2 linked regions of the Homo sapiens genome follow. The protein of the gene in region 2 purifies or fractionates together with the protein of the main gene of each other region. This does not show direct contact. Each region holds a gene or a part of one and is shown on either strand. Other genes may lie near its edges. The genes, in order: KIF2A and BUD23.

Region 1 (3,818 bases), on a different chromosome or scaffold from region 2:
GTGCTGGAATTACAGGCATGAACTACCATGCTCAGCCTAGAAGCATGACTTTTAAAAGGAACACTTCCCTCACTCATATTACTCTTGGGAGATAGTTTAATATGGTGAAATTCTAATGTCTCTTTTCACTTAGCACTATAAAACCACTAATATTGCTTTATCTAAAAGAGCTGGAAGACAACTTAACCTGTATTTGTTCTACAACTGAACCAGAAGAATAAAAATTAGTTTTATCCAAGGTTTAAAACTTGTATCTATTCTTAAGAATCGTAATCTCAAAACAAACAAACAAATAAACAAACACCTTAAAATTATTTTAGGTTACAAAACAGATGTGTTAAAATTAAAGCAGATGGCTGAATCCAAGAATTAAACTTTGCAAAAGATTAATGTCATATTAATCACAACTATACTTCTGACTAGAAAGAACGGGGTCTAGATGATCTCTCAGGGAATCTTGTTCTGGATTTTCCACACTCTTGCCCCTTGTCTTATTTGAGCAGACACAGATTTAACTGGCTCTTTGCTGTTTTCTCTAGCATTTTAACAATCATGACACATAAAACAAGTTGACACATAGCCTTTCCCCAGAGTTTCAAAATCTTTGTCATAAGAATCAAGTGGCTAGGCAATGAATACAGATTCCTGGCTTTCTGTGGTACTTTTGGAAGCAATAAGTGCCTATTTTAAGTTTTTTGAGCTTCTTTGGTAGTAGTGGAAAGAATTTTACTACAGGGGTTTGTATGTCTCAGAAAGAAATACTAAAGTATACAACTTCACACCATAATCAGCAAACATCTGTCAGCAGCACTTAGAGAGCTGGGAGTGAAGGGATTCGGGCTTTGGCCCAGGCTATGCTCCTTATTAACCATGTGATCTTGGCAAATAATCCAACCTCAGATTCTTCACCTATAAACCAATAATCTGCCACCTTTCTATCCTGCTTACCTCATAGAGTTCCTGTGAAGATCCAATTAGCTAACATGTCTTGAAGCACTTGGAAAACTATTAAGCCCTAACAAATCCATATACAGAAACATTATCGTCCTAGTCCTCAGGGAAAAGGGAACTATTAGGTCACAAATGCCCCTATTCCATCCCACCCCCATAATCAATCACATAATTGTACCTAAAGAACAACTGTATTGCCACATGGTTCATCTTTATTACTTAAATTTACACATGCTATTCTCCAGAAGCCTATATAGTGACGTGTAAAGATGAACTAGCAGAAGAAAAATGTGGCAAAGCATATAAAGAATTAGGCCATTTAAAATCTTTTCTAAAGATTTTCTTTGCCTGCCCTGAACTCCAAAATTCCTGATGGGTCCTTTGAAATCTTCAATTGCCTCTTGATTTCAGATGTTAAAAGGAACTCTTTACACCAATACTTAACTAAGAAACAAGAATACTTTCCTCCCACAATTTTAGGTTTGGTGAACTTGTAGTAACATAGCACTTCTTACCAGGGATCATTCTAATCAAGCTCTGTAACACTGCTCGCTGGTGCCTTTCTCCGAAGTAAGAAGCAATTTCCTACATCTTGACTGGGCTGTAAAAAGCGGTATACGGTTCCAAAATAACAGAGAATTCCTCCTTTACTGTCATAGTTCTTGATAGTCTGATTTCTATGCTAAGCATGTCAGGTTCCTGGCTGCCATTGACAAGTTGTATGAATCTAGATAAGTCACTTATGGTGATCTGGGACTCAAGTTTCCACATTTATAAAAATGAAAACTAGTTTATCTCCAAAAACCTTTCTGGTGGAAATATTCTAAGATTCTCTTCAGATTACATGTATCAATACAGTCACAGTACTGTGACTAAGAGACCCGCCCCCAAAGAACAATCCCATATTAGCTGCAGCTTCCAAATGTTCAACATTTCCCATTTCTTCCCCAGTCCCCAAAGGGTAGTCACAGCTACTACAGAACTGTTAACAGCACAGCTAAAAGAAAAAAAAAACCAAACTAGCTACACGACAGAAAGATTGTAGGTTTTTTTAAGAGTCAGTGGGTTTTAAAAAGGGAAAGGAATTGAATCAGAAAAATAGGAAGACACATGTAAGAAAACACACCAGTCCAATTTCATACCAGGTTATCTCCTGTGGCAGAGAATAATCTTAGCAGTCCAAGCCTAACCCCTGTCACTGATAACCTTAGAAAACCAGAAAAGTCAGATTAACCTTAGCAGATCACTCAATTTCAATTAACGCTGTAGTTCCTGACTAACAGGCCAGCGGGAAGTAGAGGGCCAGAGTAGGGAGGTAGCAGTACAGAGGAGCACAGATGGAAGGTTTCACTTCCAGCTAAGATGTCATTCTAATGATTAATTAAAATGTTTGAAAACAAAAAATCCAATAATGTATGATTTATTCAAAAACGATGTGCAAGGAATTTTGCTAGACATCCCAGTAGTGGGGGTGGGAATGGGGGTAATGACACAGATGCATTCAGGGAATTTAAGAGTCATTAGAGGCTGGGCACAGTGGTTCACACCTGTAATCCCAGTACTTTGGGAGGCTGAGGTGGGTGGATCACTTGAGGCCAGGAGTTCGAGACCAGCCTGGCCAACGTGGCAAAAACCTGTCACTACTAAAAATACAAAAATTAGCCGGGCATGGTGGCACACACCTGTAGTCCCAGCTACTTGGGAGGCTGAGGCATAAGAATCGCTTGAACCTGGGAGGCAGAGGTTGTAGTGAGCGGAGATCGCACCACTGACAGAGCGAGACTCTGTCTCAAAAAAAAAAAAAAAAAGAATTATTAGTTATTAGTAAGTCCCATTACCCCATGCAGTTTAAAAACATAGTATTAAGAATATGTACCCATAGGTATGAGCTGAGAGGAGTGGAAAAAAAAAAGTTACAGACCCAAACATTAATACTTAAGGAAATATGCTGTCTCATGAATAATACAGAATGATTTAGGAATTCAGATGCTGACTGGCCATCTGGTTTTAGTAATCAGTGAAGACTCATTAGGATAGTTTTCATCATGGTCTTGAAAGATAGGAATAAGCTCATTTTAGTGTACCTGTTTGCCCTTGGGATATGTTTATTAGTGTAAGAGTATCACTGATGGGAAAAGTGTGGTCTGAAATAGGGACATGGATCGCCATCAGCAAGCCAAAAGAAAAACATCAAGTCACCAGTTAATAATGGTCTGAAGCAGCCCTTCTTTACTCATGTCATTTCTACTGTCTCAGATATTAGTGTTCCTCCAACTGCAAAGTTTATTTTTGTTATAATAACCACTAGTGTTTTATCCAATATAGACGTTATGGAAGTGAGAGGAAGCAAACAAGCTTCTTTAAAGTGAAAAAGGGAAAGCTTGAGGGGCATTCTCCCAGACATCAATTTCTATTGTGAAACACTACTGTCCAATGCAAATGATCCTTCTGTTCTTTCGAAGTTCTCTACTAATCTCCTGCCTTCCACCAACTCCATCATGCATCTGAGGCACATAAAAAGATACATGACCATAGGTTAGGATAATAACACACTGTGATGACTTCCCTAATTTCTTATAGGCAAACCGCTTTTGAAATGTGGCTTTAGGTTAGTAGCACTTATGTAAGAACACAAAGCTCTTGTATGTCTGGGAACTTCTGGTATAGGCTGAAGGTGAAGGCTGAAAAGAACGAAAATTGCTTCAAGTTCAATAAATTTAAATAAAATATGCTCCGTAGAAATTAAAATGTATAAATCAAATATCATATACTTTTTCTGATACGATTTCAAAGTTAACACCTATACTCATACTTATGAGTGTAAAGAATTTACACATTTTATTGCACCCTAATTTTTTAAAAAATAA
Region 2 (3,818 bases):
TTTAGACTACTCACATACACACAGCCATCCCATCACCCTTCCTCCTAAATCACTCCCTTCCACTCTACCTGTTAAGTGTCTTTACAACCCCCAGATTTAAAACCTCAAGCAGCCAGGTGCATTGGCTCATACCCGTAATCCCAGCATTTTGGGAGGCTGAGATGGGTGGATCACTTGAGGTCAGGAGTTCGAGACCAGCCTGACCAACACGGTGAAACCCCGTCTCTACTAAAAATACAAAAATTAGCTGGGCTTGGTGGCATGTGCCTTGAATACCAGCTGCTCAGGTGGCTGAGGCAGAAGAATCACTTGAACCTGGGAGGCAGAGGTTGCAGTAAGCCTTGTGCCACTGTACTCCAGCCTGGACAACAGAGCAAGACTCCATCTCAAAAAATAAATAAATAAAACCTCAACCAGTCACTATGTCTTCCTTCCTGCCCTTCCCCTCCGCCCTGCTGTACACACACAGAGCCCTACCTCCACCCCACTGGCTTGTCCCACAGCCTCTCCCAACTTTCACTTCCCCGCACCAATGCTCAGTGCTACCAGCTCAAATGCTTCCACCTAACTCTCTCTCCTCTTTCACCAGAAAATCACCTTCCTTAAACACACATCTGATCCCGTCACCTGCCAACTCCCCATCATCTACTCCATCAAGCCCAAACTTCTTAGGACACACTTAAGTGCCTTCTAGGAAGCAACCACACTCAACCCCATCTTCCGTGGAATCTCTCGTTCATCCCTCTCATCTCAGACCCCTTTCCCACCGGCATCTGTGCCTCTGCCCACTGTTCCCTCACTCAGAAACCCTCTCCTTGACTATCCAAATTCCTCCCAGCCTTCAAGGTGCAGCCCCTCCACCCAAGGCTTTCCTGTGCTCTGGCAGCCCCATGACTCCCTAGGGCACACACCACTCATGCCCTTATATTCAGTTGCCTGGTCCATGTCCTAAAGCACCTAATAAACCGTGGAGAGTCTTACACGCAGAAACTGTTTCATTTCCCTGTACTCCACAGCACCTTGTACGCCTTACATGTAGCAAATGTTTAAAAAAAAAAAAAAAGTCTGGGCCGGGTGCGGTGGCTCACGCCTGTAATCCCAACACTTTGGAAGGTTGAGGCGGGCAGTTCATGAAGTCAGGAGTTCAAGACCAGCCTGGCCAACATGGTGAAACCCCATCTCTACTAAAATACAAAAATTAGCCAAGCATGGTGGTGAGCACCTGTAATCCCAGCTACTCAGGAGGCTAAGGCAGGAGAATCGCTTGAACCCAGGAGGCAGAGGTTGCAGTGAGCCGAGATCGTGCCACTGCACTCCAGTCTGGACAATACAGTAAGAATCCGTCTCCAAAAAAACAGTTTGCTATACCATCTCACCTCTCCCCGAAGACAAACAAAAACTGACCATCCCCTTCCGAAACATACAGACCATACTGCTGGCCTTCGGTTTTTCACAGCTTAAAACACCTCATCTGACCATTACCAAAAAGCATCTGCTACCCTTGAAATTATTCCCCAACCCCCCTGGGTCTTGTTCCCAGATGTAAAAGGAAAATCTTCTAATCTGAATTTTTACCTCTCACCTGGCTCCCCACTTCACATCCCCACCACTCAACTTAGGGTAACCAAAGGAAGTCTCCCCTGCAAGTAATGATTTGTAACTTCCTCCCCTATTTTCTCACTTTCACTCCCACACCACACCAAAAACTAAACAGAACTGATCACAGCAGCCTAAGAAAAACTTAATCAATTTTAACATTCTAAGATCTGTTATTGAAGTGCTATGTGGATGTTTAACCCGACTCTGATTACAGAGAAAGGACTGTGAAGCACTTAAGAGATTAGAGCAAGTCCAGACGCTCTCTACCAGTTATCTGTTGGCAAATAAAGTAAGATGGCTGCTGGGGCCCACAAGATGGCTGGGGCCCATAAAATGGCCGCTAGAGACTAAAAGACCACCTCCTCTGCCCCACCAGACACACAAAGCTGACACAGAATCTGTACCAGTGGTGCCCGAACCCGGCAATGCAAAATAATCGCAATAGTAGACAAGTTTTATTTTTGAGATGAAGTGTTGCTCTGTCACCCAGGCTGGAAGTGCAATGGCGTGGACTCGGCTCACTGCAACCTCCGCCTCTCGGGTTCAAGCAATTCTCCTACCTCAGCTTCCTGAGTAGCTAGCTGGGACTACAGGTGGCCACCACCATGTCTAGCTTTTTAGGCTGGGCGCGGTGGCTCACGCCTGTAATCCTAGCACTTTGGGAGGCTGAAGAGGGCGGATCATGAGGTCAGGAGATTGAGACCATCCTGGCTAACATGGTGAAACCCCGTCTCTACTAAAAATATAAAAAAATTAGCTGGGCGTGGTGGTGGGCGCCTGCAGTCCCAAGTACTTGGGAGGCTGAGGCAGGTGAATGGCTTGAACCCGGGAGGCGGAGCTTGCAGTGAGCCGAGATCCCGCCACTGCACTCCAGCCTGGGCAACAGAGAGAGCCTCCATCTCAAAAAAAAAAAAACAACAACCACGTCTGGCTTTTTAGTAGAGGCTGGGTTTCACCATGTTGGCCAGACTGCAAAGTTTTAGAATCCAAAAAAATACACTCTTGGGCCTTGCTCTAACCTTGTAAATCTGAAAATCCCATGGGATGTGTATTTGTAAATATCTGCATGAGTCTGCTGCACAGCCAGGTTTGGGAGGCACTGGCTTGCAGGACTAAAAGCAGGAAGAAAGAGGCCAGGGTGGCTCACACCTATAATCCCAGCATTTTGGGAGGCCCAGGTGTGTGGATCGCCTGAGCAACATAGCAAAAACCCATCTCTACAACAAATACAAAAAAAGTTAGGCTGTGCACGGTGGCTCACACCTGTAATCCCAGCACTTTGGGAGGCCGAGGAGGGTGGATCACAAGGTCAAGAGATTGAAACCATCCCGGCCAACATAGTGAAACCTCACCTCCACTAAAAATACAAAAATTAGTTGGGTGTGGTGGCGTGCTCCTGTAATCTCAGCTACTTGGGAGGCTGAGGCAGGAGAATCGCTTGAGCCTGGGAGGCGAAGGCTGCAGTGAGCCAAGATCACACCACTGCACTCCAGCCTGGTGACAGAGCAAGACTCCATCTCAAAAAAACAAAAAATTAGCTAGGTACGGTGGTGTGGGCCTGTAGTCCCAGCTACTCAGGAGACTGAGGTGGGCAGATCACCTGAACCCAGGAGGTGGAGGCTGCAGTGTGAGCCATAATCACAGACACTGCACTAGAGCCTAAGTGATAGAGTGAGACCCTGTCTCTAAATAAATAAAAGCAGGAATTAAAGACCCTCACCTGATGCAACCATCAAATGTGCCTGGCTTGAATGGGATGCCCTGGCCCATATCCCCCAGCAGCAGGTCTCCCTCTATCTCTCGGTCCACAGCCTCATCTACATTAGAGAAAAGGCAGTCAGAGAAAGAGAAATACCTGTGGCTTCTCCACACCCATCAGGGTAATCCACCCTGGTGCCAGACAGGACATACTTACCCAGCATGGCAGGGCTGATATCCAGGCCCACCCAATAGTGCCCTTCATCTGACAGATAACTTCCACTCAGCCCAGTGCCACAGCTGGAAGACATGACCAGACACTCAGGGTCAGTTTACAAAGACACTTCACCACCTTAGACAATCTGAACCAGGCCCCAGAATCTCACCCAATATCCAGCAGGTAACAGGGCTTATTCTCTGGCAGATAAAGAAGCTCCAATGCTCGCCCAGCCATCCTGGTCTGGATATCAATCATCCGTGAGCTGGTAAGGCAGAAACACAAGTGGACATGGTAAAGGAGT

The links.
Region 1: the proteins of BUD23 (region 2) and KIF2A fractionate together in Homo sapiens (co-fractionation; one large-scale study listed by BioGRID). This does not show direct contact.

Annotation. Positions count from the first base shown.
Region 1 is NC_000005.10:62,309,012-62,312,829, reverse strand, and holds part of KIF2A (kinesin-like protein KIF2A), read right to left. Parts: intron 1-3,818. UniProt on the Homo sapiens protein: Plus end-directed microtubule-dependent motor required for normal brain development. May regulate microtubule dynamics during axonal growth. Required for normal progression through mitosis. Required for normal congress of chromosomes at the metaphase plate.
Region 2 is NC_000007.14:73,686,597-73,690,414, reverse strand, and holds part of BUD23 (18S rRNA (guanine-N(7))-methyltransferase), read right to left. Parts: intron 3,780-3,818; coding exon 3,684-3,779; intron 3,598-3,683; coding exon 3,515-3,597; intron 3,417-3,514; coding exon 3,320-3,416; intron 1-3,319.